4 separate regions of the Homo sapiens genome follow, and all the other regions are reported to be linked to region 4. Evidence: microRNA targets listed by miRTarBase, many of them from high-throughput screens and not tested one by one. Region 4 holds a microRNA gene; each other region holds the end of a gene's coding sequence. Distances are from middle to middle.
The links. Region 4 holds the annotated microRNA hsa-miR-4775 (UUAAUUUUUUGUUUCGGUCACU, at 3,158-3,179, opposite strand). A microRNA usually pairs through its seed, bases 2 to 8, with sites in the 3' UTR of a target mRNA and lowers its output. Matches are read on the target gene's strand: a 7mer-m8 pairs with bases 2 to 8, a 7mer-A1 pairs with bases 2 to 7 and ends in A, and an 8mer does both.

Region 1: miRTarBase lists SYT13 as a target of hsa-miR-4775. Seed matches in the 3' UTR shown: 7mer-A1 at 3,195-3,201 and 8mer at 3,454-3,461.
Region 2: the mRNA of USP37 is a reported target of hsa-miR-4775. Seed matches in the 3' UTR shown: 8mer at 6,009-6,016, 7mer-A1 at 5,308-5,314, 7mer-m8 at 4,255-4,261, 7mer-m8 at 3,845-3,851, 7mer-m8 at 3,332-3,338, 7mer-m8 at 3,019-3,025 and 3 more.
Region 3: the mRNA of WTIP is a reported target of hsa-miR-4775. Seed matches in the 3' UTR shown: 7mer-A1 at 4,847-4,853.

The regions. Positions count from the first base shown.
Region 1 is chr11:45,237,546-45,244,664 of GRCh38, reverse strand. SYT13 (synaptotagmin 13) reads left to right here. Exons shown (of 6, transcript NM_020826.3): 6 at 309-4,363. The coding sequence ends at 613. Among named protein-coding and RNA genes, the nearest start is that of SYT13, 45 kb to the left of the region's middle. RefSeq lists an enhancer at 534-1,034.
Region 2 is chr2:218,448,545-218,455,663 of GRCh38, forward strand. USP37 (ubiquitin specific peptidase 37) reads right to left here. Exons shown (of 26, transcript NM_020935.3): 25 at 7,036-7,119; 26 at 1,707-6,473. The coding sequence ends at 6,386. It overlaps VIL1 (villin 1), which reads left to right. Exons shown (of 20, transcript NM_007127.3): 20 at 679-4,751. The coding sequence ends at 792. Among named protein-coding and RNA genes, the nearest start is that of VIL1, 33 kb to the left of the region's middle.
Region 3 is chr19:34,498,844-34,505,962 of GRCh38, reverse strand. WTIP (WT1 interacting protein) reads right to left here. Exons shown (of 8, transcript NM_001080436.2): 8 at 1-5,834. The coding sequence ends at 5,694. Among named protein-coding and RNA genes, the nearest start is that of WTIP, 21 kb to the right of the region's middle. RefSeq lists enhancers at 1-211, 212-712, 1,723-2,544, 6,805-7,119 and a silencer at 4,094-4,153.
Region 4 is chr2:207,750,876-207,757,994 of GRCh38, reverse strand. It overlaps MIR4775 (microRNA 4775), which reads right to left and starts at 3,188; the gene lies at 3,114-3,188. It overlaps CCNYL1 (cyclin Y like 1), which reads right to left. Exons shown (of 10, transcript NM_001330218.2): 9 at 6,876-7,038; 10 at 1,821-4,407. The coding sequence ends at 4,297.

The DNA.
Region 1 (7,119 bases), not on the chromosome of region 4:
ATAATCCCCAATGCAAGGAAATGAAAGCATCCTGGATCGACTCCTAGAGTTATAGATTGTCCGGGTGGGATGCTTTCCTGCTGGTATAGCAGAGCCTTCTATGGTCACATAGACTTGGGACCTGTGCTGGGGTATCCAGAAGGAAAAACTGAGGCCTCTAAGATGTTTGGGTATATGGGGCACAGATGTCCGAACTCTTGAGCATCTTTCCAGCACCAGGAGGGAGCTTTGTCCTGGGCCCTGCCAGATCCCAGAAACTCACTCTTGTCCCTTCTCTCTGTCTCTTTTTCCCCTCTGCCCCTCCCCAGATGTCTCTGTCAAGGTGACCTTGAAGCACCAGGCTCGGAAGCTGAAGAAGAAGCAGACTAAACGAGCTAAGCACAAGATCAACCCCGTGTGGAACGAGATGATCATGTTTGAGCTGCCTGACGACCTGCTGCAGGCCTCCAGTGTGGAGCTGGAAGTGCTGGGCCAGGACGATTCAGGGCAGAGCTGTGCGCTTGGCCACTGCAGCCTGGGCCTGCACACCTCGGGCTCTGAGCGCAGCCACTGGGAGGAGATGCTCAAAAACCCTCGCCGGCAGATTGCCATGTGGCACCAGCTGCACCTGTAACCAGCTGCCCAGCTGCCTCCCTTCTTGGACAGCCCTGACCCGTCCTCTGCAACCTCCTTTCTGTGCCCCTTTCCTCATTCTGACACCCAGAAGACAGTGACAGATGTGTTTGCAAGGCTGGGATGGCTCTCTCATCATACTCTTGTTTCTTAGAAATAAGCAAGACAGAGCAGGAAATGGAATATGCGGGTCACACTGAGGAATGCATTTTGCTCATCTGTGTTATTGAAGGAGGTGCTTATTAAATACAGTTCCTATGCCTGTTTTATAGGTGGGGTTAGGCCAGATGCAGAGAAAGCTAAATGTGGGAATCATGGATGCAAAGAAGAATTTGGCTTTTTGAAAAACAAGCATTTCAAAAATGATGAAGGAAGTGAAAGTATCCTGGATCAACTCCTAGAGTTAGAGATTGCCCAGGTGGAAAGAAACCTTAGCCAGCGTTCAATCAAGCTCACCATGCAGGGCAGTCACCCGGCAGTTCTCAAACTTTAGCATGTGAAGAGTCACCAGCAGATTCCTGGGCTCGCCTGGAGACATTCCTAGTCGGTATTCCTGGTCGAAGCCCAGGAGCCTTCCTTTTTAACAAGCTGATGTAGAGGGTGGAGCACTGTATGTGGAGAAATTCCTTCTACAATATTCCACACAGGTTTTTGGCCACAGTCCTTGATGGAGTCCCAAAACCATGGTGCAGCCAGTTCCAATGCTGGACACCTCAACCATCAGGGTGAAATCTGGGGCCTCAGCTTTTTAATTTAATTATTTTAATTCTTAATACTTTAATTTGTGCATTTCATAAGCCCCCTGCTCTTGGACTGAATTTTGTGCTTTTTATTGAAGAATTTTATTGTTTTTATCTTAAAATCAGTTTCTATTATCCTTGGGGAGACCATCCCTAACAAAGTACAGGTGGGATCTCCTGTGAGTCATTGGCTGGGTTCTGATTGCTAGATGTCACACCCACCAGCATCACCAAAGTGACTCTGAGATAGACCGGTCCCTTCTCAGCGTTCCAGTCACTTCAGGAGGAATTTAGTTATTGACTTAGTCTATGACATCTGGCTACATGTAGGTAGAGAAGAAAGATAATTTTAAAAAGGAAATCAGGTCTTTTGCAACTGTGCCTCCCTCTGTCTGTTTTCACTTGAATGGGTAAATAACCAGCAGCTAGGTTTTGAATTCCTACCTTGTTATTCTAAACAGATGTCCACATTGTTAATTAAATCTAAATTATGAGCCTTGCTGAGTGGATACGGTACTTACACCTGAACCAGGATTCCTGGGTTCTGTTGTTGACATTGCCCTTCAGCACCTGTTTGGCCAGCTGTGTAAGATAGGACTAATGACTAGGAAGCCTACCCCAATGAATGATATACTAGATGAAATAGTGTTCAAAACCTGTAGGCACTCTCTGGCTAAAAACAAACTCTGAGGCCACCAGCAGATCATCTTTAAGCTAAGTTACTATTTTTCACCTTTTTTTTTAGACGGAGTTTTGCTCTTTGTTGCCCAGGCTGGAGTGCAGTGGCACGATCTCGGCTCACTGCAACCTCCGCCTCCCAAGTTCAAGCGATTCTCCTCTCTCAGCCTCCTGGGTAGCTGGGATTACAGGTGCCCACCAACATGCCTGGCTAATTTTTGTACTTTTAGTAGAGATGGGGTTTCACCATGTTGGCCAGGCTGGTCTTCAACTCCAGATCTCAGGTGATCTACCCTCCTCGGCCTCCCAAAGTACTGGGATTACAGGCCTGAGCCACCGCGCCCGGCCTATTTTTCACTTTAATTTGGCAGCTGAGAATGCCCAGAAAGTGCCAGAAGCATCGTGGCATTTCCAGAACCATGGATTCTGCCTTTGGACCCCTCTCTATTAATATTAAAACTCTGGGCCTTCAGATGTCACCCTAATCCACTTCCCTAAGACAGAATTTCTGGACAAGATGGGTAAGGGCTTCATTCCTTCAACAAGTCAAGTCATACTTGGCCTCTCCCTGAGAATCTGAGCAGGAGCCTTATAACCTGTGGTCATTATTTTTTCTTTCTGTACAGAAATAGAAAAGCATTAGAAATAACTTCTAACCATCCTCTGAAAAAACAGAAAAAATATCGAATCCCTCTTTCATGAGAAGTCTTTTGGATAATTGGAAACCTTCATCACTGAGGTTGGCCAGCCCCTGCCAAGTGTTGTGTAGGCAAAGCACTTGTTAGTGGCTTCCTATGAAATGTTTTAGAGATCTCTTCACCATACTGGTTTCTTCTCTTTGGTTGGTGTGGGTAAAAGAAAACAAAACATTTCCTATAAGCTGAAAGCTGACCAGCATTCTCTTCTTGGTAACATCTACTACTCCAATCTAGAAAATTTGGATTCTAGACCAAAAATCAGGAAACATGGCTCCTTATAAATCTGTGCAGCTGCCTTATAGTACCATCAAAGGAATTTCAGGTGGGCTGGGCGGGGCCCCGATCCCAGAATTATCAACTCCACCCATCATCATTTGGTCATGAAGCATCCTTTCATTCTTCTTCTTCTTTTTTTTGGGGGGGCGGGGCGGGGGAGGGATCTCAAAGTTTTAGTCTTCCAGAATCCAAATTAAAGGTTGCCCCTGATGGGGGCCAGGTTCCGCCACAGAACATCTTAGATGTCAGCCTTGACCTCACTTAGCAGGGATTACAGAAATGAGATACATTTTGAAGGAGAGTTGTCTGTTATGTTCACTGTATTCTAAGTGCCTGGGATAAAGCTGTCTCATGGGTGCTCCATATATATTCATATATATTTGTTGAGTGAATTAATGAATTAAGAGTGGCTGGCAGAGTAGGCAGAAAAAGACACTGCAAATGGCATAAAAATTAAAGTCCTAGCTGAGTTCTCAATGGTAAAGGCATCAGATGTCTTAGCAGTCAAGCTAGAAATTCATGACAATGAGTATTACTATTTGCCTAATGGCAACTCATTGCTCTCCATGTAAATGTAATCAACAGATGAAGAGAATATAATTGCTCTGCTTTTCCACTAAAACTCCATCTTAGTGAATTTTAAATTATCCAGAGATGTCAAACTGCCAAATAAAAATATTTCAGTAGTCTTTGCATCAGCTTACCTTGTACCAGAAACATTTCCAATTTACTATCAAATTATAGTAACTGAGCCTGTGTGAAGTATCTCATCATTTTCGAAAGGAACACCTTGTGTGATGCCAGTGAGCATTTCTAAAAAGGGTGTGAGGTAGAGGTAAAAATAAGGTGAGAGACCATTTCAGAATGCACTGTTGCTCAAAAAGGTGATCTGGTTCTTTCTTCAGAGATTTCTACGGGGATAGAAAATCGGGAGTCTGCCCTCATTAATCTGTGATTCCACCTCTTGCACCAAATCAATATCTATTTGTTGAGCACTTATTGATTAAGACCTTGCATATGTCTGTCCATTTTGATTTGAGATACAACTTTTTGTGTGGGTTGAATGACAAATCACTCCAAACAAAGCTGGGCACAGAGAATCAGCTAGGAGACCAGTTATTCAGGGTCCATTTCTCTTGGATGTAAAGGAGTCCTGGGTAAAATGTGGCTGTAACCTAAACCAACTAGTCCTTGTGATTTGTTTCTGCCCTCTGTGTTTCCTGTTGTCAAATGCTAAGTGTGTGTTTTGCAGTCATGAACTAAAGCACAAAAAGATGCATGAGACATTGTAGTCATATGTCTGGTGTGACACTTTGGAGCAAAAACCTTGCAGTGGTAAATAAAAAATTTCCAACAGGGTCAGCTGCCTGGTGTTTTCTTTTTTTCCGTTTTACCTAATATTTTGGCATATAAAATGCAGAAGAAATCATCTGATAAGCACTTATGAGCCACTGCCATGTTTAATAAAACTTGACAACTACAATTGAAGTACCCTCAGTGCCCTTTACTCAGAAGACCATGACCTTGGATTTGGGGTTTATCATCCCAGGCATTCCCTCATACTTTTATTACATGTCTCTGTAAGCCCTGAGTTCCATAAAGTGTTTTTAAACTTCATTTAAATTGTATCACACTATTTTCACTCAACATTAAATATTTCAGTTTCATCTGTGCAGACACATGCAGCTCCAGTTTATTTCTTTTTCACTGATGTATGATATTCCATTGTATGGATATGCCACAGTCCTATGCAGTTGATGTATATCTACATGTTTCTTTTTCTTTTTTTTTTTTTTTACTGTTACAAGAAATGCTGCTATGACATTCCTCTGCATGTCTCCTTGTGCGCTTGTGTGAGTTTCTCTAAGATATATACCCAGGAGTGAGTCATAGAGTACTCTGTGCATGTGCATGTGTGTGTACCTTGGTGGCCTTGCTTGAGTACTGAATCAAAGAGGCTACATACAATTAGGAATGCCAAGGTTGGGTGAAGCTTTTCAGGGATTTGGCTTCATTGCTGGGGAGAAAAATTTGGTGGAAACTACTAACTTCTCTTTCTTTAACATTCCCCAAAGAAATACTCCATCAATGGAAGGGTCTAGTAGCAGCCAGTGGTACTCATGAACTCCTGGTGGCAAGCAGGGACAAGGGCACTCCTGGAGTCCTGTCATCCTAAGCCTTCCTGGTGGCCACTACAGCCCTGGCCTCTGGAGGAAGAGGGATTAAGCAAGGGGCAGAGCCTGAATTTTCAAGCTAGTAGAAAATTAGCCAGGTCACACAGAATTAAAATAGAAGGTTCTTAAATAGGATAAACAATCCATAAAGAAAGCCATGAGATGTCGTTGCTTTCCAAGTCTGCACATAATTCCCTATTTTATATTATGTATACACATACATTCTATTGTAATGGCAACTAGCATTTAAATTTTCATAATAAAGTAGGATCAGTTGGTTTTATCCCACATAGTCGAATGTTATGCAGACTATGTTTCACAGGTAACTATGAATATGGCCCACCTGAACCCAAAACTCATACTTAAGAGTCTGGATTGATGTAAAAGAGAAATGGAAGAGGGAAGCAGAGTTCATGAGTCACTTTATACATGGACTTTCCATTGAAATGCTTCGAATAACAAGCACTGTTCCTGCGTATAAAATTGACTCATGTCTAGAGCATTGCCTCAGAAGCTGGGAATCTGCAACCCGGCTTGGCTTTGTGACTGACCACTGTAAAATGAATTTGGAGCAAATGATCACTAAGGCTCCTTCCAGCTTTAACATTTTGTGATTCTATGACCTAGACTGTCAACAGCTTTGGCTCCTTCCAGCTTTAACATTTTGTGATTCTATGACCTAGACTGTCAACAGCTTTTTTTTTTCTTTTTTAGACAAGGTCTGGCTCTGTCACCCAGGTCAGAGTACAGTGGCACAATCTAGGCTCACTGCATCCTTGACCTCCCAGGCTCAAGCAATCCTCCCACCTTAGCCTCCTTAGTAGCTGGGACCACAGGCACATGCCACCACACCCGGCTAATTTTTTGTATTTTTTGTAGAGATGGGATTTTGCTACGTTTTGCCCAGGCTGATCTCAAACTCCTGGACTCAGGCGATCTGCTCACTTTGGCCTCCCAAAGTACTGGATTACAGGTGTGAGTCACCACACCCAGCCAACAACTTACTTTTTACACATACCTTTAGCCTTCTATCTTGTGCATAAAACAAATTAAACCTACATACATGTGTACTTGCCCTCCCTGCCCCATGCCTGCCTGGCAATGTCCCCCGGTATCTCCTGACACTCCCTCCTGACAGCTACCCACTCCTCTAGACAACCTGAAATGGCACCTGAGGCTTCAAGTCAGCCTCTTCTCATTTGCTTAATTGCTAATGGAGCTGGTGGTAATTTTCCATCCAAGAGTTTCATTTTTTTTTTTTTTAGAGCCAGTTGGAAGCATCACCATTTCAGGAGCTCTGAACTCTAGCATCTGTTCTGTCTCCCTCCTGAGGCAGACGCCTGGCAAGGATAAAGCCACAGGATGTGGCTGTGGATGGATTTAGGGAGCTGGGCATTTTCTTAGTCCAAGTGTTGGAGAACTGTCCCCTTGCTCCACTTCCTCATCTCCTGCAGGTGAGCCAGCACAGATGGCCCCTGGCAGGGACCTCAGCAGCTTCCTCAAGCCAGAGAAGAAGACCCCTACCTTGGAGGAGGATGGGAGGAAGCCAGACTTTCTCCCAGATAGGCGCCTCCATCTCTAGAAGCCAGACGTTGCCATGGAAACTGAGCTACTGGTGGCCACTGTGTGATTTGGCCCCTGTGCTCGCTCATCCCCAGCCAGGTTTGGTCTCCTGTCAGTGCAGCCTATCCATGCTAGGGCATATAGTTCCCCAGCTCAGTTTCCCAGTGCCCTTTCTTGGTGTTTCAGGACAGCCTGTTGGCAAGTGAGCAATGGCAGAAATCCTGTTTCAGAAACCTAGGGATTACAACCAGGGACAAGCAAGGAGGAACCTGCTTTTCTAGCCAGAACAAACAGAACCTCTCTGCAGTCCCTTTCTCGGGGGCCAGGTGAGATGAGCTGCAGGAAGCAGAACAAGGTGCCCTGAGGATCTCTCTGAGA
Region 2 (7,119 bases), 11 Mb from region 4:
CACAGTAAGACACTGTCTTAAAAAAAAAAAAAAGTTCCCCATTTAATAGAGAGGAAACTAAGGCTTGGAAAGAGGAGTCCTAATTCTTATTTGGGCTAATGTGAACTTGACCCTTGTACAAAGAAAATCTCAATCTACCACACTACTATCTTTTTCATTGTTAAAAATTCAGGGATCAGGCCAGGTGTGCTGGCTCACACCTGTAATCCCAGCACTTTGGGAGGCCAAGTAGGGTGGATCACTTGAGGTCAGGAGTTCGAGACTAGCCTGGCCAACATGGTAAAATCCCGTCTCTACTAAAAACACAAAAGTTACCAGGGCATGGTGGCGCATGCCTCTAATCTCAGCTACTTGGGAGGCTGAGGCAGGAGAATCACTTGAAACCAGGAGGCGGAGGTTGCAGTGAATTGAGTTCATGCCACTACACTCCAGCCTGGGCAACAGAACAAGACATGGTCTGGAAAAAAAAAAAAATCAGGGATAAACCTCTGGAATACCAAAATACCATACTCTCCTCCTCTCCATCCCTTTCCTGGCTCTCCTGACACTGCTTCTGTTTACTCTTCATTTATTTGATTATATACCACATCTATGACTCATCAGAGCAAACGGTGCCTGAGGGTGAGGGAGGAAGGAAGGATATGTGACCTTTGCCCTCTGGTCCCTCTCTTCTTCTAGGAACACCTGTCCATTGAAGATTTCACTCAGGCCTTTGGGATGACTCCAGCTGCCTTCTCTGCTCTGCCTCGATGGAAGCAACAAAACCTCAAGAAAGAAAAAGGACTATTTTGAGAAGAGTAGCTGTGGTTGTAAAGCAGTACCCTACCCTGATTGTAGGGTCTCATTTTCTCACCGATATTAGTCCTACACCAATTGAAGTGAAATTTTGCAGATGTGCCTATGAGCACAAACTTCTGTGGCAAATGCCAGTTTTGTTTAATAATGTACCTATTCCTTCAGAAAGATGATACCCCAAAAGGAGCCTATGGTCCTCATTTCAACTTCTAAGGTCGCTAGATTGTTTCTATCCTGAGGTATTGCATCAATTTTAATACTCCTATAGTTTTCTCTTCTTAGAAGAGCACAAACACTCCATGGAACATTAGAGTTCTGAGGCACTACCCTAGCTTGTCCTCTATCATGACTCATTTTTATCTATGGCAGGTAGGCTGAAGCACTTTGCAGGTTTACATCTTCCCCAGAGTAACAGCTTTTCCTTTTCACATATACTTTCCTTACTGCCTTACTCAGTGGGTAAGTTAAAGGGCTGAAGGAGAGTTGAATGGTCCACAAGACTACCCTCTTAAGAGGTTTCACAAATTCCAAACAGTACCAGTGAGAGCAGCACTTCCACTGGGGCTAGGCTTGAGACCTAAAGGCAAGTATGAAATGCATATGCTACTTCACTCCCTCTCCCAACCCTTAATAATGAGGCAAAGCAAGAGCCTAGTGAAGGCCAATGCTAGGTTTACAAACTTACCCAGAAGCCTCTGCAAAGCTTCACAGGCTCCTCAGATGAAAATAACAGGAATCAATGGGGACTACGGCCAGACACTGGTTTGCCATTCTGTTCCTTTTAAGAAGTAACAGTGCTGCAAGGAAGTCCATGTCAGAAAGCCAACAGAAGGTGATTTCCACAACTTTGAACAGGTTGTTACAAGTATCAGCAAGAATGTGTCCTTTTCAGAAATAACAGTCAAATCAAAGAAGGTTAATAAAGGCTTTAATTTCATACACACAAAAAAACTCTATGCATAATTTAAAAAGGAAACAAAAACAAAGAAAAACCGTAAAGGATACAGAGGAACAGTTCTGCTAAAACACAGATAAAAGTGCCGCTCCATACAAAACATAAAGAATCAGAATCAAAAGTCACTCTGAACATAAAGAAAAAAAATCATCTCACAAATAATGTGGCCACAGCTGCCAGAAAACCTGGTAGTGGCTCAATTAGGCAAAGTGTAGGAATCTCATTTTTGTTTTTCTCTCCTTAAGTTTAAAGAAACAACAATGACAATAGGCCAGAGAAGTTAGGGAGGGAAAGAAAAGCTCAAAGGGAGGGAAACCTGGGGACAAGAGGTGTGCACACCCACATGTGGTCTCACTCTTCACACAGGCCCACTATTTTTGAAGTAGACCAGTTTAGTTGACTGTTCTTCTTTGTTCTGGCATCTGACTGGACCAACCTGGAACCTGGTCCAGACCCTCACCCACTCTATTCTTATGCCAATGGACATACCTATACTTTGAACCTCTGTACTTTTAAGAAAAGTCCAATGTTACAAAATCAAATGCTTATATTCAGACTGGCACACTTTTTAAATAAAAACTCCATACACCTCAGACATATAGCACACATGGAGACAACTTACTAATTGTGTGTAAGTATGATACAATGAATGAGACTGCCTGAAGTCTAGTAATCAAAGCATGCCATAAGGTGAATGATTGTGGTTAAACACAGCAAAATAATTGTCACAAAACTTTCAAGGCCTAACAAATTAGAATTTTCCAATAAAAAATATATATTTTTTCAGATGTTAATAAGACATATCAGTAGAGACAAAATTAGGATTTTGAAGTAATGCAATAAAAAGATGTTGGAGGGCAGAAGTCTATTTAGTTTTTGTATACACTTGCAAGAGTGCATTACTCAGTATAAAGCAAAATGGGGAGGAAAAAGACATCCATCCATTTTATTGGAACACTTTTATGTGACTTGAATCTGGTGTTAGGTTGTTGATTTTTCTAAAAATCTCCTATATATACAAAATCCATATGTACTTGGAGATCCAGCTGTTGCCCCCTGTTTAAAACAAAAGACCACCTCGGGGGGTCAATTAAATTAAAAAGGCCCTCCAACCACCCTAAATGGGATAACTAAGAGTATCTACTGCAGTCATTTCAGAGGACAGAGAAGGAAAATATTTTAATTTGCTTTAATATAACCTCTTTTCAGTAGATCACAAATGAGTTTACAAACTACTTTTTTTTCTCTTTAATTTAGGTGTTTGCAGATAATTTTCATTATATCCGTAGCTGTATGTGTGTATAGTTACATAATGGTAACTACACACGATACAGAAGAATCAGTAAATTCATGGATTATTTTGCTGAGGTTTTAAATTTTAAAGCCTCTGTTTCAGAATTTTATACTTGATCAAGGAGAAAAATAAATGTGTAGTCTAACATTTGCTTTCTGGAGTTAATTAACTGATCTGTAAGAACCACTGCATATGTCTTAAAATGTAAACATATTTACATTTGTTGTATTTGTTATTGAGCCTTTAAGGTTAGGCCCAGAATGAACAGACCATAGCAAGTAAACAAATAATTTTTAGAATCAAAGTATTAATAGAAGACCAGTTCATGGATTTGCTTATTCTATCCTGCTGAGACAAAACTCATGAGTGTGCACACACATGTGAATATATCCCTACGAAACAGTCTATCTTCTCATAGGCTTAAATTATAGTCATGGCTATTAAAGAAATTAACAGCATCCAGCCACATGCAACTTTCCAACCTTCAGTACTATTAGGTGATTAAAATCAACAAATATGAAGTTTAGTTCATTTTTCCCTTAAAATTCCAACAAAGATCAAAAGGTTGTATCTAGAACTAATTGCCATCAAGTTCCAATTCAATGTCATTTAAAGTAATGTAACCACACATTTGGTATTTTCAATAGGAAGGTTAATTAGGTATTGTGCAAACTGCCTGCAACGGAAGCACTCAGTCCTTATCTAACTTGTCCCTTCCTGGCCCCAACATGCTAACTGCCCCATCCCCAATTCTGGGCAAACTGATCACAATGTGCAAAAAATAATATATTATCTATTTATAATTTTAAAATATATACAGCCAGCTCAAAAACAACAACAAACCCCATCAACATAGTCCAGCTGAAATCTCCACTGGTAGTCAAAGAAGTAGATTAAAGGAGTAAAGGAAGGAGAAGGCTGATAGGGCCACAAGAATGGACAGACATCAAGTAAAATTTGAGTCCCAAACATGCAAGTACATGAGCAGTGAGATAACTTATATATTCCAATAACCTATTTTCAACAACTCCTGCCCAAGACATGAAGATCAAATCAGGTTTCTGAGGTAAGTGTACTTCTAAACCATACACACATGAAAGCTATGAAAGCAATTCAAATGAGGCTGCTTCATGAGGCAATCTAGACTTATGGCATTATTTCTACTTTTCTCCATGTTTTAATTGCAGCCTGCACTTTAAATCTTTCCCAATAATTTTTAACAGTGCCTCTCAAATGCAAAGACACGTAAAAGAATTAATAACTAGCCAAAGAATTTTATCACCGCTTCACTCATTTATAAGAAAACCAATTATTTCCAAGCAAAATCAAACCAAACCAAAGAGGCTCCTGGTAGAAATGAAACAAAACTTTAAAGCTAGTTTTAAAACAAATATTTTCCTCTGCTCTAAACTACTCTGGCGTTTTCTACCACTCTACCATTTTGGAACATTCATTACAATAAGGTATATAGGTAGATGGTAGGAGGCAAAGCATTTATCAGTAGTTGAGCAAAACTGCTGAGGCCATTTATAATTCAAAGAATGAAAACTTAGAATAGTTTACTACATTAGAATACATCCAAGTTCCAAGAGTAGGACTGGAGCTCTCTTAAGGCAATCTTTCAGAAAAGATGTTGCATCTTCTGTGATGATGGTTTGTGTTTTTTTTGTTTTTGTTTTCGTTTTTTTTAATGAGATGGAGTCTCACTCTGTCACTCAGACTGCAGTGCAATGATGCGATCTCAGCTCACTGCAACCTCTGCCTCCTGGGTTCAAGTGATTCTCTCATGTGATGGTGGGTTTTTAAATGTTTTTTCCTTCTGAAAACCTGATGTGGTTTTGTCCCTACCTCTGAGAACTAAAGAATAATCCCCTTGTTTATAATAAAAGAAAAAACACGAAAGAATATAATGATGGTTTCATTTTTCTATATTTAACTCTGTGTGATCCTAATGATATCTGGGCTCACAAAATTATTTTGTGGACAGAATTCCATCCTCAAAAGAATTCTTTATATGGTTTCATAAGCTGCTTAACCAAGCTGGTTACGTCAGCTAAGTGACTAGCATAGCACTTAATGTTGCCGCTCTACTTTGCCTCAACTCAGAGCACCTAAAAAGTAGATAAATAAATTATGCACCTTTGTTATTTGTTAGTTTTTGGGATTACCTAAGCCAATCACATTTTAATTGCAACCCTATTTTAAGGGCAAAGCCAGACAGTAAATGGTTAAATGCCCAAGGTTTGTCCTACAGCTCAAGTACTTAATTTCATACTTGCAATAGGGCTTTTAGCTTCAGTGGTCCAGAATTTTAGCTTTACCAGAAGAACACTCTTCTTATCCTCCCTATGTTTGAGAGACAGAGATGCTAGCATTCTTCCTTATCCCTAAGTATTCCTGCTGGGGAGTCCCAATTGGAGAAATATTATCTTTCTACTTGTTTAAAGTTTTGGTTGCAATCCATTAGGGTAATGCTGCTCCATGGCAGAATGACAAAAAAGAAAAAAGATTCTATCTTTACCACCATAATAATGATGATGATATATGATGAACATACTGTGTGAAGAAATCTCCTTAGAGAAAACAAAGTATATAAGAAATATCAAATGTGGGACTGTAACATATTCCAAAGCACCAACAATCCATTTCTTGGGACTGCATGTAAACAGCAAAGACATCACAAATTCATGAAATTTGCAGACAACAACAACAACAAAACAGCTCCTCAAGTCAGGTGACAGTAATGCCCCTCTCTTGCAAAGAGAACAAACTGTCATTAGTGTAACATGAAGAGCTGGCTTTCCAGTGAATTTTACTAATAAGGAAACACAAAAGGTTACAGACTTGAGTGAAACTACTCAAGGAACATAAAAGCTAAAAGCCAACTGATAAGTATGTCTTCACACATTTCTCAGGTGAATGGACTCTTTGACACCTTCATTTCTTCTCCAAACTGCTGTGCTATTAATTTTGAGCAGGCATATTCTGGTGGCTCATCCTAACTCTTTAAGGCTCCATTCATCCCGTGTGTGTGTGTGTGTGTCTGTGTGTGTGTATACACACATACACAGATATATATTTACAACATGTATTCCTAAGACAAAAGAAGTGCCACTCATAGGAGAAAAAGAGGATAATCAGCTACGGATGTGAGACCAAAGTTTCCATAAAATAGCATGGAGCATTCTACGTTACTCCAATTTTTGTCTTTTGGTTTGGCCCTGAGCTGTTTGTTGCTCCCGCATCAAGTAGAATTCCAAATTCTCCTTCAGCAGAGGAAAGGTGAGGTGGGCAGCAGTAACAAATATGCAGTGCATGCTGCCAACCCAGGAGTTTGTTCCTCACAAGGCCTGACGGGTAGTCTTCCCCACTTCCGTGCTAAGTGACTGAGAGTTCTTTTCTGTTTCCAGCAGCTCATCAAAGATCTCCCTTAAGATAAAACAAGCAAAAAATAAAACTGGAAATTTAGTAAGCAGAACCAAAGAATAGGCAGGAGAAAAAGTAAAATAAAATTGATATGGATAAGGCCTTCACAATTCCATTTCATGCCTGTATTTTATTTAAAAAGCAGCTCACTCATTTGATCTTAACCCTTTGAATGCTGATTTTTAAGAATAGAGGGGAACTGACAACAGTTAGCTTTAATGAACATGCTAGGTAATTCCCATCCATATAAATCAGATCTTCTAGCTGATAAAACTGGATGACCAAAACTATTTATGACAGGACATCTTCTATCATAAAACAAACTGTCTTAACTTCCATACCTAGATACAACTGTGTAATGAGCAATTAATGCTGAGTTATGAGAGAAAATATTCTGGACTTACAAGGAAATATCAAGAGATAGACCCTAACCAAAGATGATAAAAACCAAAAATTTTCAACCAATCAACTGATGGAAACATTTTATCCTCAAAGGAAAAAAAAAAAAAAAAAAGAGTTCCGGTGATTTCTAACTCATTATTTAGAATCTGGCAAAGTTTCTTACTTGTGCATATAAAAGAAGATGTAGCCACTCCGATCTCGATCACTCTGCACGGCAGCCTCTTGGATTTTTGATACCTCCAGGTCA
Region 3 (7,119 bases), not on the chromosome of region 4:
TGACCCCAGGCCATGGGTCCCGCTGAGGATGCCTGGAAATCCGCATCAACCCAGCTGGCTCAGGTGGAGATGGAGGCTCCGGGACAGTGTGGGATGGGAGGAGGGTGAGTAAATGCCAGGCCCGGTCCAGGGCCTCTCCCTGGCCTCCAGCCTGCAGCCCACCCTAACCCTTCCTCAGCAGGGCTGATCACTATCAGGGATGGCCCAGGTGCTGTCAGAGAAGAGGGTGAGCCAGCTGTGTCCTGTGTGCCTGTGACAGGTCCCAATGGCAGGAACTTCAGGCAGGGAGGCAGAGATCCCACACAGTCCTGTCACCATGGCAGGGCAGGTGTGTGACCCGGGCGGGTTCACGTGCGCAGCGTGGAGAGGAGTGTGCGCTGGGTGTAGGACAATGGGCGTGGCAGGTGGGGGGAGGCACAGGTGGGTGGGTGTGACAGGCACACAACCATCACTGCTGAGCACCTCCCTACAAAGCGCCAGGGGGCCCAGGGCTACCAGTCCTGAGGGCCCACAGGGGGGCTGGCATCCCTGGGGAATCCTTGGGCCCTATGCCCTCCTGGCAGCCCTGTGACACATGCCCCAGGTCTGGGATGGTGGCCCAGCAATGCCCTCAGGGCCAGGGAAGTGGGTGGAAGGAGAGGAGCCGCGTCCACACTCCTCCTGAGTTTCCTGAGCACTCTCCAGGATCCCAGGCCACCCTGGGGTATCCGGCCAGGGACTAGGAACCTGGCAAGGGCCTGGGCCTGAGATAGGTGAGCTCCTTCCACCACCTCAGGCCTCAGGGCCCCTCCCACCTCTGAGCCCCCACCCAGGCTGGCTCCCAGAGTCCCCCATCATCCCCATGAAATGTGTGCACATGCCCCTCTCCCAGGTCCCCACCAGCCTCTAGGGAACACGCCTACCATGGGGGCGGGGTGGGGGCAAAGCCTCCAGAGCTGGGCTGGGTGGAGGCTGCAGGTGGCCCTGATGCTCCCCCCTCTCCCAGACCTGTTCTTGATCCCCACCCCAAGGTTCTCCTGGGCCCCACAGGCTGCGCCTACTCCTAACCCTGCAGCCAGCAAAGCCCTCACCCCTCCCGAGTGTGGCACCGGAAGTCCTTGCTGGCCTCCTGGCCAGATGAGGGCTGCCAGACCGGACGAGACAGGACCCCGTGATGGGGAAGGGCCTTCTCTCGGCCTCTGCTCACGAGCTAGAGACCAGCCTCAGGGTGGGGCTGGGTGGGAGGGATGAGCACAGCTGCACCCTACCCAACTCACCCCAACCCCCAGTCACCCTCTGGCCCACACTGCTCCCCACACCTCTGCCCAGGTCTCATAAATCCTGCCCAGTGGCCCCTCCCCACACAGCCCCCCAAGAGCAGTTCCACTTGGGATTGTCATGGTACCTGCAGCTCAGCAAGCTGACATCTGTGCTTCCCACCCCAACAGGGGCAGGGAGCCCGGATGAAGAAAGAATGAGGGCAGAGGGCACCCCATGCCCAAGACCCACCCACCCCAGGACCCTCCAAGAGGCCATCAGGGCGACGCCAACACACACACAGACACACACACACACACACAAACAAACACACAATTACACCCCACAGTGTGGTCACTTACAGGAGGTGAGCCTTTTCCACTGGTGGGTCAGGCCTCAGTGGGGTCACTGAGAACCCACCAAATCCTCCCAAATCCCAGCGTCAGGGCTCTGTTGGTCTCGCTCCAGTTCAATCCCTCTCTCCCTCTCTCTCTGCAGCTTATCCTGTCTCCGTATCTTTCCCCCTCATTCTCGGAGTCACTCAGTCTCCCTCTTAAACAACAGGTCTCTCTCCCACTCCACCTCCCACCATCTCTCCCAATCTCTCTCATTCATTTTCTGAAATATTCAATCCCTTTCACACACGACTTTCTCCGTCTCTCTCATTGATACACACACTCTCCCCCCATCCCTGTCTCTCTCTCACACACACACACATGCACACACACACGCACACAGGCAGACTCAGCCCTCCAGGGTCTATGTCTCTGAGCTGAGCCCCGCTGAGAGGCAGGCTTGTCTGGGGATTGCAGGGAGCACTCACGCCCACATAGGATGTGTCCACGTGGACAGCGCTTGGCCCTTTATGTACCCACTGTGGATCCTTCACTAGGCAACCAGGCTGGACTTGGACCAGTGCAGGTGGAACTAAGCCAAGACCCTGAAGGCCAGGGCAGGGTCAGCTCCAGCCTCAGCACTCGCCCTAATCCAGGCACGGTGGAGAGTAGCGTGAGCCACCAGGCGGGCCCAAGCTGAAGAGCTCACCGCATAGCGGGGACAGGGATGGCAGGAGACTTGCCACTCAGACCAGGGAAGGATGACAGGGACCCCAGGCACAGGCACAGGTGTCAGCAGAGACCACATCAGTGGGGGTCCCCTTGGGCAGGTGGGGGGTGGCATCCAGGGCTGGAGGGTCACAGGCCACTGGCATGGCTCAGCCCAGTTCTCACACAGCATCCTCCATCTCTATAATCATGGGGTCAGTGTCACCCCTGGGCATGAAATGGAGATACTGCTGTTGGCAAATGAGCTTGGAGAGCAGAGGCCAAGACTTCTGGGTGTCAAGTGAGGTGTCACAACTGGGGCCTGACTTCATAGAGGCCAAGGTTTCTTCATAGAGGAAGAAACCCCGGGAGAGTGGCTCCCACGGAGGGAACTGCCATGCACAGCTCCGGGGGAGGAGGTGGAGCAGTGGCCACCAGCCCTGACAGAAGGCAATGCGGGGCCCAGGGGCCCAGAAAGAAAGGGCAGAGTGTGGCCTGGTGAGGCCACTGCCCCAAGGGCCTATGCAGTCCCTTGACTGCGACCTTTGACAAAGTGTGTTACTTGGGTGGGGTTGGGGGGACTCCAAGCTGTGATGACTCAGGCCAGCTGGCAGGAGCGTGCATGGTGACCGGGATGGAGCAGGGTTCAGTGAAGCAACCCCATGGATATAAGCACAGGGCCCACCATGGCACATGCAAAGGAAGGGGAGGAGAAGGACCGGGTTGGCAACAAGGAGAAACCCGGCTCAAAGCAGGTTTGAGGGAGGAAGCAGAGAGGACAGTTCAGAGGACAGCTTTGCAACTGACCAGTTAGAAGGCAAAGGAGCCCAGGCCAGGCACGGTGGCTCAAGCCTGTAATCCCAACACTCTGGGAGGCCAAGGTGGGCTCGCTTGAGGTCAGGAGTTTGACACCAACCTGGCCAACATGCTGAAACCCCCTCTCAACTAAAAATACAAAAAGTAAGGCCAGGCACAGTGGCTCACGCCTGTAATCCCAGAACTTTGGAAGGTCAAGGCGGATGGATCGCTTGAGGCCAGGAGTTCCAGACCAGTCTGGCCAACATGGTGAAACCCCGACTCTACTAAAAATACAAAAATTAGCCAGGCCTGGTGGCGCACACTTGTAATCCCAGCACTTGGAAGGCTGAGGCAGAATGCTTGAACGTGGGAGGCAGAGGTTGCAGTCAGCCCAGATCACGCCACTGCACTCCAGCCTGGGCGACAGAGCTAGACTCTGTCTTTAAAAAAAAAAAAAAAAAAAATAGCTGGGCGTCATGGGGCACACCTGTAGTCTCAGCTACTGGGGAGGCTGAGGCATGAGAATTACTTGAACCCTGGAGGCAGAGGTTGCAGTAGGCCCAGATTGTGCCAACGCACTCCAGCCTGGGCGACAGAACGAGACCCTGTCTCAAAAAAAAAAAAAAAAAAAGCCGGGCACAGTGGTACACACCTGTAATCCCAGCACTTTGGGAGGCTGAGGTGGGTGGATCGCCCCTGAGGTCAGCAGTTGGAGACCAGCCTGACCAACATGGTGAAACCCCATCTCTACTAAAAATACAAAATTAGCCGGGCGTGGTGGCGTGCGCCTGTAGTCCCAGCTACTCGGGAGACTAAAGCAGGAGAATTGCTTGAACCCGGGAGGCGGAGGCTGCAGTGAGCCAAGATTGTGCCACTGCACTCCAGCCTGGGTGACACAATGACACTCCGTCTCAAAAAAAAAAAAAGAAAAGAAAAGAAAAAGCAGCTCAGCTAGCAGGAGAGAGCCAGCACCGGAGCCTCCACGCCTGGACTTTACTCTCTGGCCCCAGTGGGATCACCTCCTCCAAGAAGTGGCCCCTGGTCCTGCTGAAGGCCCCACTCTAAGATGCAGCGCTCTCCACGCTGTGTAAGTCCCTGGCTAAGGCTCCCTGACCACCCCTGTACTTGCCGGCTCAGCCCACCAGGTGGCGCCCGCGCCATGCCTCGGCCCTGCTGGACTCCGAAGCCGCCACTTCCCTGCGGGCGCCTCCTGGTGTTTGTTCCCTTGGGCTCGGCCTGGACAGCCCTGCTGGTTCCCGGAGCCTAGCCCAGCCCCGCGAGTGATTCACAGAACTCACACCTGACGGTGGGGGAGGAAGGGGAGAGCAGCAGCCAAGAGGTGGGTCCAGGCTCTCCCAGGGGCGAGTGACTTCAGTCCAGATGTCCCCTGAACCCCTGGGGATTCCGCATCAGGACCAGGGCCTCCCATGTCCAGACCCCACATTCCCGTCAGTGTGTCCCGGGGAGCACGGAGGGACCTCCACACTGCATTTCATGGGGCGACCGCCCTTAACACCCGGACACACACGGAACCCCACACTACCCTAAAGTCTGAAAGGTGGACACGCGTGGCGAAGTTTTAGAGGAATTTCAGGACAAAAGTCCTGAAACCACAAGGTTCTTACCACCTGAAAACCAGCTCCGTAACAGACAAACTAGACACTTGTGAGTTTGCCGGCATTTGCTTTAAAAATAACAAGGCTGGTCCAAGATCTTAGAAGAAAATTATATTCTTTTAAAGAAAATGAAAATATCCTCAAGGGAAAAACTTAATTTAAGTCAAATCTTGTCCTTTTGTCGTGGAGCCCCTTGCCCCGCGCGCAGACACAGGCTTTCCTGAAGCGTGGCCAGGGCGCCCCTCTCATCGCTCCTGAGCGTGACCCGGGGCTGGAGCCGCACGGGGATTTTCCCGAGCTGAGCAGGGGGGTCGGGGGGCCCAAGCCAGGAGCCCTGGAAGAGGGAGCAGGGCGGCAACTGGGGCCGCAAACACCCATCAAAGTCCCCAGGACCAATTCCCACAGACACCACGTGGCCACAGGCAGTGCCCTTTGCAGGCCCCCTCCCCAAGGGTGTCACCCCTCACCCCCTCCTGGGACCCCGCCTAAACCAGGCACCCTTCCACCCACCAGCAGGAACTGCGCTAGGAGATGCAGGAACACCCATGTCCCCGCCAGCCCCGCCTTCCAGACCACACCCTGCCCGGGAGTGCGCTTTGCGAGGTCGGGGTCGGGGGGGAGGGCGGGGGCCAGGCCCCTGAACAACAGACAGCAGCTCCCACCCAGCAATGCAGCCGGGTCACCTCGCACCCCTGGCCAAGGCAGGGGCCCTCTCCAGCCTGGTGACCCACGGCCTACCCTGAGGCTGCAGGGCACAGGGGGCCTCCAAGTGGAAAGCTGGTGATGGGGTGGGTGGGAGGCAGGGCCCGCAGGGAAGTGACTTGAGCAGGCACAGACGGTGAATAAATAGAAGCTTCCACGCGGGGGTCCGGCCCCTGCAGACAGCAGCTCGGTGGGAAACTGATTGGAGGGAGCTCCCCTGACGCTGACCAGGGCCACCCACGCGGGCCCTCCCTCCACACCCACACCCACCCCGGCCCAGGGACGGGTTTTCCCCTGCTCAGAGCTCAGTGACGTGCACAGTGGGTGAGGGAAGAGGCCCAGGTTGGAGGCGCCGCAGGTGGCAACGACGACACAGTAGGTGGCCCGCCAGGGGATAGCAACGGCGTCCCTCCTCCCCGCTCAGCTGCAGCCCGCAGTCCTAGGGAAGAACACAGCCCCCAGCCCCAGAGTCAGCAGACAAGCGCACATCAGAGGTCACGGGACGGGGGAGGGACGGAGGGGAGGGGCAGATCTGCAGGGTGCCGCAAAACAACATGAAGACTCTTCCGCCGGGCGCAGGGGCTCACACCTGTAATCCCAGCACTTTGGGAGGCTGAGGCGGCTGGATCATCGCTTCGGTCAGGAGTTCGAGACCAGCCCAGCCAACATGGTGAAACCCTGTCTCTACTAAAAATACAAAATTAGCCGGGCATAGTGGCACATGCCTGTAATCCCAGCTCCTTGGGAGGCTGAGACTGGAGAATCACTTAAACCCGGGAGGCAGAGGTTGCAGAGAGCAGAGAGCCTGCCATTGCATTCCAGCCTGGGTGACAACAGCGAAACTCCATCTCAAAAAAAAAAAAAAAGACTCTTCCTCTGCCAGAGGGGGTATGGGAAGCCCGGCGTGGAGCACTGGAGACTGGAGCTGCCTCTCAGGTATCCAAGAGGAAGTCACTGGATATAAGTCAGACTGCGGGGAGAGGGCTGAGCAGTCAACATGGGTGTCAGCATAAAAACCTGATGGTTTGGGTGTTTTTTGTTTATTCGTTTGTTGTTGTTTGAGACAGGGTCTCTCACTGTCACCCAGGCTGGAATGCAGTGTCTGGATCCCAGTTCACTGCAGCCTCGACCTCCAGGGCTCAAGTGATCCTCCCACCTCAGCCTCCTGAGTAGCTGGGACCACTGGCGCACCCTGCCACGCCCTGTGAATTTTGTTTATTTTTTGTAGTGATGGGGTTTCATGTTGCTCAGGCTGGTCTAGAACTCCTGACCTCAAGTGATCCTTCACCTCGGCCTCCCAAAATGCTGGGATTACAGGCATGAGCCACCGTGCCTGGCCTGTTTTTTGTTTATTAGACAGGGTCTCACTCTGTCGCCCAGGCTGGAATGCAGTGGTGCGATCTCAGCTCACTGCAGCCTCAAACTCCTGGGCTCAAGCAGTCCTCCCACCTCAGCCTCCCAAGCAGCTGGGACTACAGACATGTGCCACCATGCCCGGCTAATTTTTTTCCCCTTGTATTTTGTAGACATGGCGTCTTGCTATGCTGATCAGGCTGATCTTGAACCCCTGGCTTCACAACCATCCTCCCACCTCGGCCTCCCAAAGTGCTGGGATTGTAGGCGTGAGCCACCGCACCCAGCCAAACGTGATGGGGTTTTTTGTTTTTGTTTTTTTTGAGACAGAGTCTCGCCCAGACTGGAGTGCAGTGGCATGATCTCAGCTC
Region 4 (7,119 bases):
CCCCAGACTCCTATCAAATATGTTTCAGGTATTCTGTCTTGTAATGAAAATGTGAAAGTTCAATTCACAATATACCAAAGTTAATATTCTATTGGGGTCTGTATTATAGTAGTTAAAAAAAACCTACAAATGAAAATAAATTTGAGTCCAGGTAATCAGCCCTTTTTTAAAGTCTCATGTTAGGGAACGAATCTTCCCTAGGTATAGAACTCTTGAGAAAAATGCCATAGTTACCACCCCACTAGCAACTTGGTTTCCATGCCCCATTTGTCAGAGAACCTACCTGCTTTTCAGTGACATTTATACTCTTTTCCTCAACTGACCCAATTTCCCATTTATCAAAGTCGCTGTATTGCCTTCTAGAATTAAAAGTCAAAGGAAGAGAGCAGCTTAGTGATACTTATTTTACCAACTTGTTCTTCAAGTCACAGATTCATGTCCAATGTCCCTCTCCCAACTTTTAAACCTTTGGCCAAATGTGTCAGCATTTCTGCTTATAACTGGCATATCACAGGGTGCAAACCATCTTATAAAGTGACGTATGATAGATTTTTTTCCTAAGTTAGATCTTTTATCCTAGTCGGCAACTTATCAAGACACAGTGATCAGTTAGTTTTTGTTTTTTTGAGACACAGTCTCATGCTGTCGCTCAGGCTGGAGTACAGTGGTGCGCAATCGCGGCTCACTGCACTCTGCCTCCTGGGTTCAAGCGATTCTTGTGCCTCAGCCTCCTGAGTAGCTAGGATTACAGGCGTGTGCCACCACGTCCCACTAACGTTTTTCTAATTTTATTTCTTTTGAGCCGGAGTTGCAGTGTCGCCCAGGCTGGAGTGCAGTGACGTCATCTTGGCTCACTGCAACTTCCGCCTCCAGAGTTAAGGGATTCGCCTGCCTCAGCCTCCCGAGTAGCTGGGATTACAGGCGTGCATCATCACACCTGGCTTTTTTTTTTTTTTTTTTTTTAAATAGAGACGAGGTTTACCATGTTGGCCAGACTCCCGACCTCATGTGTTGTGATTACAGGCGTGAGCCACTGCACCGTCTTTTTTTGTAATTTCAATAAAGACGAGGTTTCACCATGTTGGCCAGGATGGTCTCAAACTCTTGGCCTCAAGTGATCGACCCACCTTGGGCTCCCAAAGTGCTGGGATTACGGGCGTGAGCCACCGTGCCTGACTGTGATCATTTACTTAAATATTTGACTTTAGGTAATGAAGAATTAAAGTGGATGAAAATATTGCAATGCTATCAGGATTTATTGAGAATTGCTAAAGCTGAGTGGCTAGACTCTTAGTTCTAAAGAAACCTAATAGTGACTTGGTATATTTTTAACTGAAATGTAAGCTTGAAAATAGCACATTAAAGTCAAATTATGTGGCTTAAGACATCCTCTCAACAGCAACACAAATTCTAGTTCCTGTCTTTCCATTCTCTTTCCTGTTTGTCTGAAAACCTCAAATACCTCTTGTTCTAATTCTACGCTATTCCTTTAATTCCTTTCTCTTTGATACATTTTGCTTAATTTTATATTCTAATGTGCTTTTCCCTCTCAGACACGATAACCAACTATTCAAGATGCCATCTAATGCACTATGCCATTAAGTATTGTGGTCAGTGATTTTAAGTGTAATAAATTATCTTCAGGTTGAAAAGAGCATATGCAAAAGAAATGGATCACTACATCTTAACTAGAGGCATGGATCAAATCAACTTATGGTTGGTTTGAAAATGCTTTAAGACATATCAGGATTGACTTAAAACTAGGCTGGGCAGAGATGTAACACTATGTGGATAGAAGTGTTACAAACACACTAGCCATATTTTAATTAAAATAGAGTTTATTAGCTTTTAATATAAACATGAGAAATAAAAACCACATAAATTGTAGCATTCTTTTCAAAATAAAACTGCAATCAATACTTGAATCTCCAAACTCTGAATTCCATAAACAATATTTGTTTTTTTGAGGTGGTAGATTGTAATATTTGTATACCATTATTTATCATTTATGTCTCTGTCCTTTAAAAATGATGGAAACTGCAGCACAATATGATGTGAAGCATTGCTATAATAGAGGAAGTACTCCTGTCCCAGAAATGCTTTGTTTATAAGCAAGATTCCTAGGATTAGATTTGAGAAAGTAGGAGAAACAGATTTCACATAGTTGAGAACACTAACCTCTTCTTAGTATTTCAAATTTAGGTGACATTATCGGTCTCCTAAAATTATTTGCTCCTTGCCTTTTAAAGCCTGAAGAGTTCCTAAGGGTTATGTAAGTATTTCTTAAATAGCAGGACTTAATGGGACACCTACAGCTTGGTAGCATGTAGGATGATAAAACAGCTGTTCATATCACCTTCTATAATTAGGGTCCAATTCCTTTTATTACATGTTAATTAACACTGCTCTTCAAAATCTTCCTTTAAAGAAACTGCGGTAATCAAAGCATATAGAGCACAGCTCTGCGGGTAACTACTTTTAAAAAGAGGGCATTTTATGGAGATACAAGGTATTCCAAAAGTTCAGTGTAATTTTAAGCTTTGATACTTGTAGAAATATAAATGCTACAAACCTTTACAAAACCTTGTCTGAACATTTTTCTTCTGCTTTTTTCTTTGAGACAGGGTCTGGATGTCGCCCAGGTTGGAGAGCAGTGACATGATCATGGCCCACTGCAGCCTTGACCTCCTGGGCTCTACTGATCCTCCCACCTTAGCCTCCAGAGTGGCTGGGACTACAGACACATGCCACCATATCCAACTATTTTTATTATTTTTTTTTACAGGCAGGGTCTCACTATGTTGCCTAGACTGGTCTTGAACTCCTGCACTCAAGCAATCCTTCCACCTCAGCCTCCCAGGGTACTGAGATTACAGGCATGAATCACTATGCCCAGCCCATTTCTTTTGCATTTAATTTTGCATTTTTCTAAGAGATGGGGTCTTGATAACGTTGTCCAGGTTGGAGTGTAGTAGCTATTCCTATAGGCACCATCATGGTACACTGCAGCCTCCAATACTTGACCTCAAGCAATCCTCCAGCCTCAGCCTCCCAAGTAGCTGGGACTATAGGCGTGCACCACCACACCCAGCTTCATTTTGCAAATTTTGAATATAAAGCTTTTAATTTTTTGTTTCAGTCAATGTCTGCTATCAAGAGTGACCGAAACAAAAAATTAAAAGCTTAATATTCAGGAGACAGGTGCCAGTTGCACTTGTAGTCCCAGCTACTTGTGTGGCTGAGGCTAGAGGATGGCTTGAGACCAGGAAGTTCTAGGCTGCAGTGAGTGCACAATGATTGCACCTGTGAAAAGCCACTGCACTCCAGCCTGGACAACGCAGTAAGACCCCCATCTCTTTAAAAACAAACAAAACAAAACAAAAAACTTTCAAATCATGTTTTTTAAAGGTTTATAGCATTTATACTCATGCTGCAGTGCCTTGGAGGGCCCAAACTATATTCAAGCTTAAAACTGCTTCACTTTTTCTCATCGTCACTGAACCACCATGTTGGTTGGCATTATGAAAATATCTTTTAATACATTTATTTAGCAAGAGAAAAATTATCAGAAAATGAGAAGCACCATTTATAGTTCACAAGAAATGCAACATGGACTCCAATAGAAGTAGATATCAATAACTGATACTTCCTCTGTTTATGACCCCAAACATGCTAAAATGCTAAAGTAATGCTTGCAAAGAATATGAATGACAAATGTTATCCAGCAGCTTTTTGGTTTAAAATGATTGCCAATGACTAGCAGCTTCAATGGTAACAGTAGGGAGGAAGAACCCTTCAGTACCTAACAACGCTGCTGTCTGCTCCTAAGTGGCTTTAGTTAGAGTCCCATGTTTTAATGGTAATACTGCATTGATTTTAAAGGCATATGCAGCAAAATGCGGGGGGAGGGAGAGAAACTGGAAGAAACATAAAAGTTATATGGTTAGTGTCTTTAAAGTCTAAAAATTTAAACTATTGTTTAAAAAACCTTACATAGTTCACAGCTATCGGCCCACACAGTAAGCAAATATCTGTGTGTAGGATGGGAGCCTTCACTTTGGAGTGGTTTTTGTAACTCTGTTTACATTAAAAAGGACAGAAGAGTGTTTTGTTGCATTGACAAGGTCCCATTCTTTCCTGTGGAGTATAATCCTTGTTGTCCATGAGTCTCTTGAATTTGAGATCTTTCCTTTTGATGAAAACACTAATTTTGCTGGTTTTTGAGCAGGAAAGGTGGTATTTCTCCAGTCTTTGTAGATGAAGGTCCCATGACGTTATAACCCCTCATTTCTCCTTTTAAGAGAGGATGGCTTTAGAGCGCTGAATACCAATGAAGTTATCAGCACTGAAAGACCTTCTCATAGCGGCTCTACACAAGTCTTTGTCTTCACACAATCTAGAAATAGCCTAGGAAAGTCAATCAAATAGAAAACAGGTACAATTTTAAAAAGGGTTCCCGCCTTTGAAAGAGCACCATTGTGAAAGCCACACATGTGGACTCCTTTAGATAGTTCACAGTTACAGCTACTTTGGCTGAGTTTTACACTGCCAGGTTGTGGGGACACTACTTCCTGACAGTTCACCAAGGTAATATCCTTTAAGGGCTATGGTTAGATTCCCAGAGAACAAAGGGGAATTTATTATATTATTAAAAAACTGGATTCCCAAAGATATCAAAGGTATTGTGATAGGGCTCCTAACAGCAATAGCATCTGTTATCTGTTAACTTATTCCTTAAATATAACAAACGTACACTTGTGCAAAAAAATGTTTATTCAGCTATTCAAATTCTACCCAATCCTTATTAGCTATTATATACTCAAAGCACATTTTAATGAGGCAGGTGTGTGCTGGACTATACTGGAACATATGAGCGGTCTGATGACTGACGCGCCAAAAGGTATTACTTCACATGCACGTTAATTATGGTAGAAATACATATTATTATTTTTTTCTTTTTTTTTTTTGAGGCAGAGTTTCGCTCGTTGCCCAGGCTGGAGTGATCTCAGCTCATTGCAACCTCTATCTCCCAGGTTCAAGCGATTCTCCTGCCTCAGCCTCCCAAGTAGCTAGGATTACAGGCATGTGCCACCATACCCAGCTAATTTTTTGTATTTTTAGTAGAGACAGGGTTTCACCATGTTGGCCAGGCTGGTCTCAAACTCCTGACCTCAGGTGATCCCGCCTGCCTCGGCCTCCCAAAGTGCTGGGAGGAATGAGCCTCTGAGGCATGAGCCACTCTCAGGCATGTGCCACTGAGCCCAGCCTAGAAATACATATTATTCTAAAGTACCACCAAGGTACCACAGAAAGTGTTAGTTTAAAATATGTGTCCATTTCAGTTGTAATTCTGCTGTATACTCACCAAGAGTCATAAGCCATAAATATTACTTTGCCCCATAAAGTTACCATTTCTATTAAAAACCCATGTACTTCCTACATTATTATTTTTTTTTTTTTGAGACAAGGGTCTTGCTCTATCGCCCAGGCTGGAGTGCAGTGGCATGATCTCGGCTCACTGCAGCCTCCGCCTCCCGGGTTCAAGCAATTCTCATGCCTCAGCCTCCTGAGTAACTGGGCGTCTGCCACCACGCCCGGCTAATTTTTGAATTTTTAGTAGAGACCGGGTTTCTCTGTGTTGGTAAGGCTGGTCTTGAAGTCCTGATCTCAAGTGATCCACCTGCCTCGGCCTCCCAAAATGCTGGAATTACAGGTGTGAGCCACCATGCCTACCACTTACATCCAGCATTTGAAACACCTGCATCCTATACAGTGAAGGGTATAGGTCTCTTGGCTTATCCACTAATCCTTTGTCTAAAAAACTCATGGGACTGCACTGTGATACATAAACCATGACATGAATTTGCAAACAGTAAGTAAGACAGTCAAGAGTGGCAAGTGAATTATGTATGTAGATAAAATTAGGAATACAGTCGCAAAGAAAAAATTTTTTTTTTTTGGAGACACAATCTCACTCCGTCACCTAGGCTAGAGTGCAGCGGTGCAATCTTGGCTCACTGCAACCTCCGCCTCCCAGGTTCAAGCGATGCTCATGCCTCAGCCTCCCAAGTAGCTGGGATTACAGGCATGCACCCCCATGCCTGTATTTTTGTGTGTGTGTACTTTTTTTTTTTTTTTTTGAGATGGAGTTTCGCTCTTGTTGCCCAGGCTGGAGTGCAATGGCACGATTTCAGCTCACCACAACCTCCGCCTCCCGGGTTCAAGCGATTCTCCTGCCTCAGCCTCCCGAGTAGCTGGGATTACAGGCATGCGCCACCACGGCCGGCTAATTTTGTATTTTTAGTAGAGACGGGGTTTCTCCATGTTGGTCAGGCTGGTCTTGAACTCCCAACCTCAGGTGATCTGCCCTCCTCGGCCTCCCAAAGTGCTGGGCTTACAGGCGTAAGCCACCGCGCCCGGCCTGTGTGTGTATTTTTAGTAGGGACAGGGTTTCACCATGTTCGCCAGGCTGGTCTTGAACTCCTGACCTCAAGTGATCTGCCCACCTCAGCCTCCCAAAGTGCTGGGATTACAGACATGAGCCACAGTGCCCAGCTAAAAAAATTATTCATGTATGGTTATGTGAAAGGGTAGAAGTTCAAAAGGAAACCTCATTAACAACAGATTAAATTTGATTTAAAATATTCTGAATTATGGTCACAGAAGAGTTAATATGTATAATTTTTAAATAATGTTGATCCTTGTATAAACCATACAAGACACAGGAAATCTGACGCCAAAGGGCTAATAAGCTCTTCAGTGTTAGTTAATTTTAAAGCTTTCCATTTTCCTAATCACTACTTAATATGATTTAGTCACAGATGTTGGCTTTGGTGGCTGATGGAAAACCTCACTTAGTGACTTCATAGCCTTACCTCTAGGTTCTGTGCTCTTTCTTTGCTAAGAGGAGCAAATAGAAAATTCAGGTTGTTGTCATCTGCTAAGGAGCGAAGGTCAAAGTAGTATTTGGCATAAACACTGGCAGGAACATTAATATTAAACTGAAGAAGCTCCAGAAAATGCCTTTCCATTTCATTCCTGGAGGAGGAAGAACACAACAGAACCAGCACAGGACAATGTCAGTCAACTGGGCTATCTTCAAAAATATCATTCTAAGAG